Homo sapiens: one gene and its partners. The protein of the gene in region 1 purifies or fractionates together with the protein of each later gene. This does not show direct contact. Each region holds a gene or a part of one and is shown on either strand. Other genes may lie near its edges.

Region 1 (5,571 bases):
ATGACTGTGTCGACTCCCCATTTGCTGAATATCAATCTGATCCCTTAGGCCACTAATGATCATGCCTCACTAAAGATCAATGTAGTCAAAGTGAATCAACAGACCATGGACCTGACATGTTTTCATATATTCACCCCTAGCCTGGAGAAAGTCCTCAAAACAAAACATTCAAGTTAGAATAACTGAGGTTATTTAAAGACATGCCTCTTTTTAGGATCAATACAAAGAACAATACCTCTGTAAGTTCAAGGAGATCGTCCGTTCTTCTGTCCCTCTCTTTGCCTGAGCAATTCTTTTCCTTTGTCTCAATTATTGACACTTTCCTCCTGAGTAAGCCATTGCTTCCACTGCCCAGGCGGAGTCGGGCCGACACTTCTTCTGATAGGTCAGGCTCCAGTTGGTATCCCCTCCTCTGATCAAAAAATTATCTAAATTCTACTGACATGTTTGATACTTGCAAATATAAACACAGATTACACATGAAATATAAAACTGCCACTAATGTGAAAGAAAAGAGAATTAGCAAATCCCCCAAGTGAGTAGATTTACCCTATCTGTCTGTCCCTGCAAGGGGGAGCAAAAAAAGCTCCAGACCTAGGCCTCACAGGACCCTCAGTTATGAACCATCAAACAGAACACTCACCACCTTCCCTGGAAGTAGCAAGAAAAGTATTTTCAGTTCTCCTATCACAATTAAAATTAGTATGTTTAAAAGATATTATGAAAGTTTTAAACAGCAAAAAATATGACCCACAATCCCATCACTCAGAATAAATCCCTACTATCTTTATAGTAACTCAACTTGGTTCTAGTTTATCCTTGAAAAAAGTCATTTGATATTACAGAAAATGCACAAAACATTAATGTACCACTTAATTTGAATGAACACCTATATAACCACAATTGTAGTAAACAAATAGAATTCTGCCAGCAACCCAGAACATATCATCTCTTTCCAGAGATGTATGATTTTTAAGAAATTCTCCCTAAGAAGCCATAAAATGTAGGTAACATGTTGGTATGGAGGCAGATTGGTCTCTCATAAACAAAGGTGGCTACTGTACAGAGGCAAAACTCCAACAACTCAGAAGGAAGAAAAAAGTTGTGTATTTTCAATGCTTCCTGCCTTTTTTTTTTTTTTTTTTTTTGAGACAGAGTCTCATTCTGTCACCTAGGCTGGAGTGCTATGGTGTGATCACAGCTCACTGCAGCCTTGACCTCCTGGGCTCAAGCAATCCTCCCACCTTAGCTTCCCAAGTAGCTGGGACTACAGACATGCCACCATGCCTGGCTAACTTTTAAATTTTTTTGTGGAGACAGTCTCACTATGTTGCCCAGGCTGGTCTCAAACTCCTGGGCTCAAGTGATCCTTCTGCCTTGGCCTCCTAAAGTTCTGGGATTACAGGCATGAGCCACTGTGACTGGCTGGCTTGCTGCTTTTTTAAAGAAAAACAACAGAATTAACAATCAAAGTTATATATATATACTTTTTCTTGCTTTTCATGGGCACCAAAACATAAGTTACATAAGTAAACAGGTATCAAATGTAACTAGGATTTTTACTTACACTTTCATTTTCAAATCTGATTCCGACCATCGTCTCTGTATCAGTAATTTTCCCCTTTGAACACCTAAGGAAAAAAATTGAGAGATGATAGACTTCTGCTAGATGATTCAAACCTAGTACATCCTAGTTTTAGAAATAAGATTTCGTAATTTGTACATAAAAATTGTGTTGAGTTTACATAATACTCTAAACCAGGAGTCAACGAACTTTTCTGAAAAGGAACAGACAGTATTTTAGGCTTTGCAGGTTTTATGGTCTTGGGCACATCGTGGCAACTCTGCCACTGTAATTTAAAAGCAGCCAGACAGTATGTAAATGAATTCGCATGTTCCAATAGAAATTTACTATACAAAAATAGGCAAGTAGACCAGATTTGGCCCATGGGCCATAGTTTACAAACTCTGCTATAAACCATCATCCCAAAATCCTAAAGCATGCAGAGCTGCCTTTACTGTTCCTATCCTAAAGACACTGACACTAGACATCCCCACTCCAACCAAACTCCCATCTAAGAAGCATGTGTTTCTCCCAACCCCTGACGCCTGGGAGATAAGGGGCACCCCCCTCAACCCACCAGGCTAGGGTGGGCATCTGACACAACAGCTAGCTACCTATCTACCCTATATGCTGACCAACTACCAGAACTCAAGAGAGTTCACAATTCCTCAGAACTGCTTACTCATAAATACAGCTTATAAAGTAAGAAAATATATATTAAAAGAAAGTGTAGAATGAACTGAATGTACGTACCTCTTTTCACTTCTCAATGAACATAGAGGTCCCCTTGTTTCAACAAGTCTATCTGTGAGGATGGTAAAGAAAAGATTAAATGTTTCCTTCATCGATGAATAATATAGTTAGAATTTCAGCTTACAGAGTTTCCACAACATCAAGACATTCCTCTACATTGAAATGCTACAGTGAATTCCAAAGACACTAGCCTCCCTATATACTAAGTTGCCTAAAAAAATGCATACATATCTTTGCTGTTTAAATATAATCTTTACTATAAACTGAGTGATATCTGCTTATCTGGTAAGCTGTCATTTAGTGGACAGTAAGTGGAGAAGTATAAGGAAATTGTTATATAAGGAATATAATAAAATTTCAGCTCACAAAATAGTTGCTACTATCTAGCAGCTTAGGAATAATAATCCAGAGCCATGTTATGAATCTACTTCACCCTGAAACAGCTTTTCTACTAAATTCCTAGATAAGCCCCAGTCAATGCTGTGAGGTTTTTTTTTTTTTTTTGAGACAGAGTCTCACTGTCACCCAGGCTGGAGTGCAGTGGCGTGATCTTGGCTCACTGCAACCTCCACCTCCCAGGTTCAGGCAATTCTACTTCCTCAGCCTCCTGAGTAGCTGGGATTACAGGCAAGTGCCACCATGCCTGGCTAATTTTTGTATTTTTAGTAGAGATGGGGTTTTACCATGTTCGCCAGGCTGGTCTTGAACTCCTGACCTCAGGTGATCCATCTGCCTTGGCCTCCCAAAGTGCTGGGATTGCAGGCGTAAGCCACCGCGCCCGGCCCAATGCTGTGAGATTTGACAGTATTTTGGTACACCATCTACACTTGAATGTCAATTTTCTACCTCATATGAACACTGTAGCATGAACTAAGGTCAATATATTAAGACAAGGCTAAATCTGGGAACTCACATTGTTTTGGAACAAACTGAGTTGTTTTGACTCCGTGATTTTGCTCTTCCCCCCAGCCTTTGGTCTTTAATGTGTCCATCTGACTTCTTTGAGAACTTAGAAACACAAAAAGTGAGGGAGATCAGATACAAAAGCAAAGTCTACCATTAATATGCATTATCTCTGTCCAGCAAGCTTCTCCAAATAGGGGTGATTGATTACACTATTATATCAAATTACAACAGAAAGGAAGCAACTATGTGGGACTAGGATAAAAGGAGTCTAATCATGATTCTAATAATATTTCAGCCAGGTCACCTAACCTCCAGTTTCTCTGTTTGTAAAATCAGAGGTTCTGAATCCCCAGTGATGCACTAACTGAAAAATCTCAGTGTGATAAAACTCAGATTAAAAGATAAAAAACTTTTTAAGCTATGTATTTAAATGGATCCTGAAACAATACATTAAAAGCAAGAACTTTTTGTTTTTTGAGACGGAGTCTCGCACTGTCGCCCAGGCTGGAGTGCAGTGGTGTGATCATGGCCTCACTGAAATCTCTACCTCTCAGGTTCAAGTGGTTCTCCTGCCTCAGCCTCCCAAGTAGCTGGGATTACTGGCACACGCCACTACACCTGGTTAATTTTTGTATTTTTAGTAGACATGGGGTTTCGCCATGTTGGTCAGGCTGGTCTCGAAGTCCTGACCTCCAGTGACCCACCTGCCTCGGCCTCCCAAAGCGCTGGGATTACAGGTGTGAGCCACCACACCCAGCCAGAAGCAGGAACTTTAATTATTTATTTATTTATTTTGAGACGGAGTCTCGATCTGTAGCTCAGGCTGGAGTGCAGTGGCACAATCTCTGCTCACTGCAAGCTCCGCCTCCCGGGTTCACGCCATTCTCCTGCCTCAGCCTCCCGAGTAGGTGGGACTACAGGTGCCAGCCACCATGCCCAGCTAATTTTTTGTATTTTTTAGTAGAGATGGGGTTTCACCGTGTTAGCCAGGATGATCTTGATCTCCTGACCTCGTGATCCGTCCACCTCGGCCTCCCAAAGTGCTGGGATTACAGGTGTGAGCCACTGTGCCCAGCCAAAGCAGCAACTTTAAAAAGCAAAAATAGTTTGAGGGTTTCGCCAACATGACAAAGTTAAGAGTTCGTTAAACATACTGCTGTTTCCAACATATGGCTGGTCAAAATGGAGAAAATACTGACATTCTGACTAAACCAAAAGAATTTTTTTTTAAAGTTCACAACTGATTATTCGCAAACAATCTGTTATTTCTGCATTCAAAAGCTAGATAGTAGGCCGGGTGCGGTGGCTCACGCCTGTAATCCCAGCACTCTGGGAGGCTGAGGCTGGTGGACTACCTGAGATCAGGTGTTCGAGACCGGCCTGGCCAACATGGTGAAGCCCCATCTCTACCAAAAATACAAAAAATTAGCTGGGCGTGGCGGTGGACGCCTGTAATCCCAGCTACTCAGGAGGCTGAGGCAGGATAATCGCTTGAACCCAGGAAGCGGAGATTGCAGTGAGCTGAGATTGCATCACTGCACTCCAGCCTGGGCAACAATAGTGAAACTCCATCTCAAAAAAAAAAAAAAAAAAAAAAAGCTAGATAATATTCTGTGACTTTTTAATCTTCGATTTGCTATTATATAATTTCTGGGATCCCTGTGTTTTCTCACACCACTTGTTAGAATTACCTAGTGTACCTCAATCCTGAGCTCACACATTTTTTGTCCTCCTTTCACAGGCAAATACAAGGCCAAATATCACTTCCTTCTGCCACTCTCATCTATTAATATTTGCTTAAATCATTATTTAATTAACAAGCTGTCCTATAAGGAAAATTGTTATGACCTGGGAGACTTTAATCTTGTCTCTAGTGGGTTTCCAAATGTGCTAAGATTCAATCTCTATGATGCCGCAGGGACTAGGTATGTCTCATGGGGTAGGGGTGAGGCAGGGGGAAGGAAAAAAGACAAAAAGAAAGACCAGGAGGAGGTGAAGGAGAAAGGAAGGAAGGAAGGGAGATGGGAGAAATGGAGAGAGGGGCAGGAGTGGGGTGGGGAAGGGAGGTAGAGAGAGAGATTGTGGGAAATGTATGCTGGGGAGGTTGAAGAAACTCTCTGCCTCTTGGGAGCCCTACTTCAACCAGTGATCCACTTTTTTAATATAAGAGTTTCAAGTAAAAGTTTACTTGAACAAAAGGTCCTAAAGGTAACATAAAATTTTACTTTGCAAAACCACTGTTACATATTATCCATTACTAGATAAATATCCAGGCAAATGACAGAGCTAGTTCTCTCAGGGTTAACCTCTTCTTTCAGTAAAGCCCTTCCCACCAATACTTTCTCCAA
Region 2 (2,482 bases), about 130 Mb from region 1:
GGGACCCAGAAGGAGTAAGTGGCAGCCATCCTGGCCATTCACATCTCTACCCCTCCTTGATGATCACCCCGTTGGCTTTCTTCCTCCGTTCTAGCTGTCTTCACTGCTTGTCACTGGGAATCTTTAGAACAGACCTCTGAACAGCCTGGCCTCCCCAGCCTGAGGTCCCTGGGGGAGGAGACAGAGAGGGGGCCAGCTAAACATGCCAGGCCAAGCTTCTGTCCCCGTGTCCCGGGAGCCAATCAAGGGCATGTGATGTTGAGTGGACATCCCTGCTTGGTGGCCTCAGGCCAGCCCCACCAGTGAGGAAAGAGTCATCAGAGGGATCAGCAGCTCCAGGGAAGGCCTGGCTGCCCCGCTTCTAAATGCCACTCCCCCTCCCATCAGCGTTCGTGCTGTCAGCCTTGCAGCCTTCTCCTACTCATTCCAGCTCCAATACCCAGCGGCTGCCAGACCGAGTGACCGGCGGTGAGTCCTTGGAAGGGTCTGAGGGACACCCCTGTTTGGGACCCACCCTATCTGGCTGTCTCTCTCTCTCTGTCTCTCTCTGGGACCTGCCTAGCTGAACCCCAACCCCTGGCCAGCCCCATCTGCCCGATGTCCAATCTAACGAATTCCATGCTGTGCCCCCAGTGGACACAGACCCTCACTTCATCATCCACGTGCCCCAGAAAGAGGACACCCTGTGCTTCAACATCAATGAGGAGCCTGGTGTTATCCTGAGCCTGGTACAGGACCCCAACACAGGTATGGCGGGCATCACACCTCTGCCAGACAGGGCCAGGGCTCCTCTGCCCTCAACATTCAGCCAGGAACAGGACTATGGCCAAGGCCCTCACTGCCCTCTGCCTGGGCACCATCCACCTGGCTGGGCTCTGCCCGCTGCCTTCCCACGCCATCCTCCTGGCTGCACCTACACAGGGCCAGCTTTATCAGCATGTGACTGGGGTAGGCACACAGGGGCTTTTTTTTTTTTTTCTGAGACAGAGTCTTGCTCTGTTGCCCAGGCTGGAGTACAGTGGCGTTATCTCAGCTCACTGCAACCTCTGCCTCCTGGGTTCAAGTGATTCTCCTGCCTCAGCCTCCCAAGTAGCTGGGACTACAGGCGCATGCCACCATGACTGGTTTATTTTTGTATTTTTAGTAGAGATGGGGTTTCACCATGTTGGCCTGGTTGGTCTCAAACTCCTGACCTCAGGTGATCCGTCCACCTCGGCCTCCCAAAGTGCTGGGATTACAGGTGTGAGCCACCGTGCCCAGCCAGTTTAATGCTCTTCCGTTGCCGCCTTGAAACCCTTAACACTTTCTAAACAAGGGGCCCTTCCTTTTTATTTCATACTAGGTCCTGCAAATATGTCACAGTCCTGCCCCACCTTCCCCATGAAGCATGGCTGAGCAGAGCACCTCTCTCCCAGCAGTGCCTTGGTTATGGGGAACAGCTCCCTCTCCTTCTCTCACCCCTGCTCCCTCCTGTCTCCTTCCCTCCCTGTCCAGTTAGTCCATCTGCAAGTGTTTGTTGTGCACCAACGAGGGGCTGGGAATGCAGTGGGAGCCAAGATAGTCCCGCTTTCATAGAGTTTAGGGAAGGGGAAGACAAACAGGTGAACATTCTGAGATGATCATTTCAGAGCATGAGACGTGCTGGGTTGGCAGCGTGAGGGTGGGAAGGGGGCTTTGTGGCTGCCCAGGTCAGCGGAGACCTCTGTGAAGAGGTCCCACAATGCATTTCCAGCACAATGGGAGCCTGTCCCTGTGTGAGGGGCTGGGGCCACAGAGAAGGAGCAGGCTAGGTCCTGTTCTCGGGGAGGCACGACCTCCGTTAGGACCCAGAACTGAGAGCTGAGTATGGGATATTTGGCATGGCAGGAGGGGTGGAGAGGAAGGAGAGGTGGTGCTGTGTGCGGGACCAGACCTGGAGACCCTGAGGCAGGAGACTCTCAAAGACAGAGTGGCACAGGCAGGGCGTAGAGGCCTCTTAGGAAGGAGGCATGATCCTGCTAAGCAAAGGCAGGCAGGCCCCTTCCCAACCCGGATGCCCTCTTGCTCCATTGCAGGCTTCTCAGTGAATGGACAGCTCATTGGCAACAAGGCCAGGAGCCCTGGGCAGCATGACGGCACGTACTTCGGGCGGCTGGGAATCGCAAACCCTGCCACGGACTTTCAGTTGGAAGTGACTCCTCAGAACATTACGCTGAACCCCGGCTTTGGTGGGCCTGTGTTTTCCTGGAGGGACCAAGCTGTGCTGCGGCAGGACGGGTAACCTGCCAGGGCCTGGGCAAGATGCAGGGGGAGGTGTGGCCTGGGCCCAGGACTCTGCTGAGTCTGCAGGGCCCTCGTCCCTGAGCCATGTCTGTGGGTGACACCCATGTGGCCTGTGCAGACATGTCAGACTCCATGGCCCACCCAGCCCTCCATTTCCCTTGGTTACTGGATATGTCCTCTGGGCCCAGCTGCATGGCAACTGTGCTCCCACCGCACCTTA
Region 3 (3,500 bases), about 25 Mb from region 1:
TTTGATCTGAGCATATTAGTGACATGTCCTTTAAAAACATGTATCTAGCTTTTATATACAGTTATGAGCAAGTAACTTGAAATTTTTGGCCTATGTCAACAAATTTTAGCATATGTTAATATTCCAGAAAAGAAACTCAGTTACATTTGCAAATTGAAATTTAGGTTTTTTCACATATATTGATACCATTTTTTTATGTGAATTCTTTTTTTTTTCTTTTTGAGACAGAGTCTCGCACTGTTTCCCAGGCTGGAGTGCAGTGGCATGATCTCCACTCACTGCAACCTCTGCCTCCTGGGTTCCAGCGATTCTCCTGCCTCAGCCTCCCGAGTAGCTGGGTTTACAGATGCCCGCCACCACGCCTGGCTAATTTTTTTGCATTTTTTAGTGGAGACAGGGTTTCACTATGTTGGCCAGGCTGGTCTTGAACTCTTGACCTCGTGATCCACCCACCTTGGCCCCCCAAAGTGCTGGGATTGCAGGCGTGAGCCACCACACCCAGCCTGTGCGAACTCTCATTTGATGTCTTCTTTTTACATTAGAAATATCCTTAGAGCTTTCTTGAATTTCCTAAGAAACAATGGCAAAGCATTATTTTCACCTTTTAGGAGTTTCGGGGTGTCTTTTTGGTTTTTTTTATCTTATTTTTTTATTTTCTCTTGGGTGTCCTAAGCATAACATTAGTTTACAGTTTTACGATTTTTTTAAAGTCAGGGTCATAAAAACAAGAAAAAATAAACAATGCCGAATTGTTTCTGTTTTTCATAGAGACGGGGTTTCACCGTGTTGCCCAGGCTGGTCTGTAACTCCTGGGCTCAAGCAGTCCACCTGCCTTGGTCTCCCAAAGTGCTGGGGTTACAGGCGTGAGCCACTACTCCCTGCCTAGTTTATTGTTTTAAAGGTTTTACACTTCTCCAGCTTGTCTTGACACAGAGTTCATATTCTGGAAAGGCTTTGGAAGTAGTTTTAGGCACAATTATTATTCCCATGTCTTTGTCAATAATTTGTGTATTTATTTGCAGCAGTTACAGTTGTTTGTCATACTGCCCTTTGGTCATAACTTCTAATTAGGACCTAACGTACTAGGAAAGATCAAACACATGGCCTGTTGTACTTAAAGATGTAATCGTTAAAAAAAATGGTAGGCTACTTAGTAGAAGTTGATTACACAGGCTTTTTTTTTTTTTTCATAAGTAGCAGCTGTAGTGAAGTACGTATTTTTTGTTTTAATTACAGGTCTCACAGATTGACCTATGATTATTTTAATGTCTTGATCTGCAGCTGTAGGGGACTTCCACTATTTAAGAAGTTGCTGGCCGGGCGCAGTGGCTTACGCCTGTAATCCCAGCACTTTGGGAGGCCGAGGCGGGCGGATCATGAGGTCAGGAGATCGAGACCATCTTGGCTAACACGGTGAAACCCCGTCTCTACTGAAAAATGCCAAAACTTAGCCAGGCGTTGCGGCATGCGCCTGTAGTCCCAGCTACTCGGGAGGCTGAGGCAGGAGAATGGCATGAACCCGGGAGGCGGAGCTTGCAGTGAACCGAGATCGCGCTGCTGCACTCCAGCCTGGGCGACAGAGCGAGACTCCGTCTCAAAAAAAAAAAAAAGTTGTCTCCAGTTCTGTAAGGCAAAACAAACTGGTTGGAAAAGATTAAAGTATTTTATACTACAATATGAATACTTGGGTTATTGGCTTTAGGCATATCTACATGGTACTTACAATACTAGAGAACTCCTTGAATATATTCATCTAGCCCAGATGTTTTGAACAACTGTGCATGTTGGATACATGTAGTCTTTCCAGCTTTATACATGAGCCACAATGTTTTTGGACCTGTTATCCCTCAGCCTTTGGGAAAGAGAATGTCTTTTTCTCCTGTTTTATGAGCTGTGTAGTGTGCGTGTGTATCTTAGTGAACTAAGATTGGATACTAATCTGGGATCAGAATCCTGAATATGGCTAAAAGATGTACGTCTTAGTACAGACATTTATAGATGATGATGTTTAATACCGTAGCGATCAGATTCCAATGAATTAAACTGAGAGAAGAAAAGAAGGAAGAAGGTAGTTGAACAATTTTAGAATGGTTGTTTGGTCAAGAATTACTAAAATGAGAAAATATTTAAAAGTTGTTTGAATTTTTATTTTATTCATTAGATACTGGTAGACACAGTCTGGGCCCTCTCTTACCTTACTGATGCTGGCAATGAACAAATACAGATGGTAATAGACTCTGGAATAGTTCCTCATTTGGTTCCTCTGCTCAGCCACCAGGAAGTTAAAGTTCAGGTAAGTTTGTTCTTAGTTAAATTATAAGTATTTCTTACCACTAATTGCTTTAAGCATGGCATTCAAAGATGGACAATTTCAGTAGTTTAAAGTATATTCTTAGCATAACAACAAATCTGTGATGGAAAGGGGAAAATAAATAATAAGATGCCATTGTAGATTACTAATTTCTTTTTTTAAGATGGGGTCTCACTGTCACCCAGGCTGGAGTGAGGTGGCGTGATCTCAGCTCACTACAACCTCCACTTCCTAGGTTCAAGGAACATTCTCCCACCTCAGCCTCTTGAGTGGTTGGGATCACAGGCACACACCATCATGTGTAGCTAATTTTTTTCTATTTTTGATACAGTCAGGGTTTTGCCATGTTGGCCAGGCTGCTCTTGAACTCCTGGCCTCAAATGATCCTTCCACCCCAGCCTCCCAAAGTGCTGAGATTACAGGTGTGAACCACCATGCCTGGCCGGATTACTGATTTTTAATGTAGACCAGGGAAGTTCATTATAGCAACATGCATGGCATCTGAAACAAGTATTGACAGACACTTATTTTTTCCTACTCCTCTTCTTTTTGTTCTTCCTCTTTCACTTCCCTACTTCTTTTTTTTTCTTCCTTGCCAACCATCCTTATTTACTCACCTGGCAAGTTTAGTTAACTCTTATCTTCATTGGTGCTGAAATAAGGGTACTCTACTGAAATGTGCTGTTTAGGGACTTTCTAAATTGTTGCTTTTCACTTATTTAAATTTATTTTTTATTGTTTAAATTCTTTCACATAATATTTATCCCAAAGAATTTGCATTTAGAAAGAGCCAAAAACAGAGTGTGAGAAGTTCTCAGAGATATAAGCAGTAGCTGTTAAGCTACAGTTGTAATGGGGGAGACGCAGCAAGCTCCCTCTACCTTTCTGAGGTAAATAGTATATTTTAATCTGCTAATGGCTTAGAATCTGTAAAGTACAATAATCGCATAAGAGAAACCGTTAGTCTGTAGCCTAAGTCATTATGCCTGAACATCAAAATAAACTGTGTGGAGCTGTTTTTAATTTCTCCTGCTCAACCCCTGGAGATTTCTGTTTCAGAAAATATTTCTTAGAAACTTGAGCTTTAAAATGCTCTTCAGGTGATACTGATACATAGTCAGATTAGAGACCCTGTACCTTAAAATTAAAGCACTTTAAAGAAGGAACACTTAGCTAAATACAGAAAGAA
Region 4 (3,500 bases), on another chromosome or scaffold:
TCATCCTGCCTCAGCCTCCAAAAGTGCTGGGATTACAGGCATGAGCCACCGTGCCTGACCTCAGATGTTAGTATGCCTTATAAGGGCCTCATATGAGATTTATTTTATTTATTCCTTTTCTTTCTTTTGTCTTTTTTTTTTTTTTTTGAGACATGGTCTTACTCTGTCACCTAGGCTGGAGTAGTGCAGTGGCTCTATCATGGCTCACTGCAGCCTCAACCTCCTGGGCCCAAGCAATTCTCCTACCTCAGCCTACAGAGTAGCTGGAACTACAGACATGTGCCACCATGCCTAGCTAATATTTTTAGTTTTTGTAGAGATGGGGGGTCTCTTTATGTTGCCCAGGCTGGTTTTGAACTCCCGCGCTCCAGTGATCCTCCCGCCTGAGCCTCCCAAAGTTTTGGGATTACAGGCGTGAACCATGGTACCTATCTCTTTTTTTCTTTATTCGTATGAGATTTTAAACTGAAGTCTGTTTGCTTCTATCTTACAGATGAGAAATGCAGCTTATGACCATGATTGAATTATAAGTAGCAGAGCTGTGACTTCAAGCCATTCTGACTTGAAGCATAACATTTCTCCGACTTTAGTACAAGCCTTTCTAAAACCAAAGTTTCTGACTTACCACTTGACTATGTAGCACTTTAATAATTTTAATAACTTTTCATTGAACCCTCATAGGCACTCTATGAAATAAAATTTAGTATGAGCAGGAAGTAGAATTTGCAAAGTGACACAGCAAGTAAGTGATAAAACCAAAACTATAACACAGGATATCAGTATTTTTACTGTAAACTCTAGAGGAGTTTAGTTGAACAGGCAAGTCCCAGTATTTTTCATTTCTATTGCATTTCTTCATTTTGCTAACAATTTATTTGCAGTACTTCCTTTGATAGTCATACAGGGCTGTCAAAGCTTTTGGTGTACTTCATTTTCCATTCTGGAAACTGATGCTGAGGAAGATTGAGATTTGCCAGGAGGCTGATGTGTGCTGGAGTCTGGGCTGCATGGCACTATTTCCAGCGTCTAGGCTTTCTACGTAAAACAGGGGTCAAAATATCAGACACACAAAACCAAACTAAAGATCTGCCTCAGTAAGTACCAGCTGCATGCTACATGATGGCTGGTAGGCACTTTAACCCTAAGAAGATTTTCTAAACAACATTTTCTTTTTCAATCTTCTTGCCCAAGTTAGTACTTTCTTGTGTCCCCTCCCTCCCTCCCTTCCTCCCTTTCTTCCTCCCTCCCTTCCTCCCTCCCTCCCTCCCCCCTTCCTTCTTTCCTTTTGTGTGGGGATGTGTATACAGGTTTCCTTATTCATTTGTTTTTTCATAGAGTTGGGGTCTAGCTATGTTGCTCAGGCTGGAGTGCAGTGGCTATTCACAGGCATGATCGTGGTGTACTACTGTTTGAAAATCCTGGGCACAAGTGATCATTCTGCCTCAGCCTGCTGCAGAGCTGGAACTACAGGTGTGTGCCACTGCACCCAGGTGATTTTTTTTTTTTCAATTGAGGCAAAATTTATATAACATAAAATTATTTTAAAGTGGGGCTGGGTGAGGTGGCTCACTGAGGTCAGGAATTCAAGACCAGCCTGGCCAACATGGTGAAGCCCCGTCTCTACTAAAAAATATAAAAATTAGCCAGATGTGGTGGTGAGCACCTGTAATTCCAGCTACTTGGGAGGCTGAGGCAGGAGAATCACTTGAACCCGGGAGGCAGCGGTTGCAGTGAGCGGAGATCATGCCACTGCACTCTAGCCTGAGTGACAAGAGTAAAACTCTGTCTCCAAAAAAAAAAAGTTCAAGTGTACAAGTTCAGTGACATTTAATATATTCACAATATTGTGCAATCACCAATTCCGTCTAGTTCTAAAACATTTTCATTACCCTGAAAGAAAACTTTGTAACCATTAAGCAGTCACTCCCTATTCCCCCATGCCCTCCACCCCTGGCAATACCAATCTACTTTCTGTCTCTAGATTTACGTATTAGAGAGATTTCATGTAAATGGATCATGCAATATGTGACCTATTATGTGTGGCATCTGTCGTTTATTGTAATGTTTTTGAGATTTGTTCAAGTTGTAGCATGTATGAGTTTTTCATTTTAATCACTGAGTAATATTCCACTGTATGTATAGATATGTTTTGCCTGTCCATTCTTCCATTGACGGACATTTGAGTTATTTACACCTTTTGGTTATTATGAATAGTTCTGTTATGAATTTTCATATACTTGTATTTGAGTACCTGTTTTCCCTTCTTTTGGGTATATACCTAGAAGGAATTGTTGACTCATATGGTAATTCTATGTTTAACTTCTTGAGGAACTGCCAGACTGTTTTCCAAGGTTGCTGGGGAAGTTTTATATTCCCACCAGCAATACACAAGGGTTCTAGTTTTTCTCTTTTCTCATCAAACACTTGTTATTTTTTGTTTTTGTTAGATAACAGTCATCCTAATGGGTGTGAAGTGGCATCTCATCATGATTTTGATTTGGCCATGTTAATGTTATGGCTAATGTTAAGTGTCTTCATAAACTTATTGACTATTTATATATCTTCTTTGGAGAAATATCTTTTTAAGTTCTTTGTCCATTTTTGAATTGGGTTGTCTCGTTTTTTGGTTGTTGACTTAAAGGGAGTTCAAAGAGAGTTTTTTATATCATCCAGATGCTAGACTCTTACCAGATAAATGATTTAAAAGTATTTTCTCCCATTGTCTTTTCACTTTCTTGATAATTTGTACACTGTGTATTTCTTTTTTCTTTTTTTTTCCCCAAGACAGAGTCTGGCTCTGTCACCTAGGCTGGAGTGCAGTGGTCTGATCTCGGCTCACTGCAACCTCTGCCTCCTGGGTTCAAGTGATTCTCTTGCTTCAGCCTCCCAGGAAGCTGGGATTACAGGCGCGTGCCAACACACCTGGCTAATATTTGTATTTTTAGTGGAGATGGTTTCACCATGTTGGCCAGGCTGGTCTTGAACTCCTGACCTTAGGTGATCCACATTGGCCTCCCGGAGTGCTCGGATTACAGGCATGAGCCACCGTGCCCGGCCAGCACTGTATATTTCTTGTTGGATTTCTTGATGTATGTGTTTATTTCTTGAATTTGTATACCGGTTGTCTTTTCACTTTCTTGATAATGCCCTTTGATGCAGAAAAGTACATCAGCCCACTTCAGTGTCCCAAGTAGCTGGGACTACAGGTACACACCACCATGCCTGGCTCAAAAGTGTTATTATTTTTTTCTTTTGTTGCTTGTGCTTTTGGTGTCATAGCTGAGAATCCATTGACAAATCCAAGGTCATGAAGACTTATCTCTGTGTTCTAAGAATTTTATAGTTTTAGTTATTTATTTAGGTTGTTGATCCATTTTGAGGAATTTTTGTGTATTGTGTGAGGTAGGGGTCCAGTGTGATTCTTCTGCTGTGGATATCCAGTTGTACCAATACCATTTGTTGAAGACATGATTTTTCCCCCATCAAATGGTGTTGGCACT

What was found.
Region 2: the proteins of SENP2 (region 1) and ITIH1 purify together in Homo sapiens (affinity purification with mass spectrometry, with the first as the bait; one large-scale study listed by BioGRID). This does not show direct contact.
Region 3: the proteins of SENP2 (region 1) and KPNA4 purify together in Homo sapiens (affinity purification with mass spectrometry, with the first as the bait; one large-scale study listed by BioGRID). This does not show direct contact.
Region 4: the proteins of SENP2 (region 1) and USP28 purify together in Homo sapiens (affinity purification with mass spectrometry; 2 studies listed by BioGRID and IntAct, with this or other methods). This does not show direct contact.

Annotation. Positions count from the first base shown.
Region 1 is NC_000003.12:185,609,405-185,614,975, reverse strand, and holds part of SENP2 (sentrin-specific protease 2), read right to left. Parts: intron 3,326-5,571; coding exon 3,231-3,325; intron 2,370-3,230; coding exon 2,318-2,369; intron 1,632-2,317; coding exon 1,568-1,631; intron 413-1,567; coding exon 236-412; intron 1-235. UniProt on the Homo sapiens protein: Protease that catalyzes two essential functions in the SUMO pathway.
Region 2 is NC_000003.12:52,787,599-52,790,080, forward strand, and holds part of ITIH1 (inter-alpha-trypsin inhibitor heavy chain H1 isoform a preproprotein), read left to right. Parts: coding exon 1-14; intron 15-387; coding exon 388-468; intron 469-633; coding exon 634-747; intron 748-2,054; coding exon 2,055-2,256; intron 2,257-2,482. UniProt on the Homo sapiens protein: May act as a carrier of hyaluronan in serum or as a binding protein between hyaluronan and other matrix protein, including those on cell surfaces in tissues to regulate the localization, synthesis and degradation of hyaluronan which are essential to cells undergoing biological processes.
Region 3 is NC_000003.12:160,520,572-160,524,071, reverse strand, and holds part of KPNA4 (importin subunit alpha-3), read left to right. Parts: intron 1-2,161; coding exon 2,162-2,293; intron 2,294-3,500. UniProt on the Homo sapiens protein: Functions in nuclear protein import as an adapter protein for nuclear receptor KPNB1. Binds specifically and directly to substrates containing either a simple or bipartite NLS motif.
Region 4 is NC_000011.10:113,865,573-113,869,072, reverse strand, and holds part of USP28 (ubiquitin carboxyl-terminal hydrolase 28), read left to right. Parts: intron 1-3,500. UniProt on the Homo sapiens protein: Deubiquitinase involved in DNA damage response checkpoint and MYC proto-oncogene stability. Involved in DNA damage induced apoptosis by specifically deubiquitinating proteins of the DNA damage pathway such as CLSPN.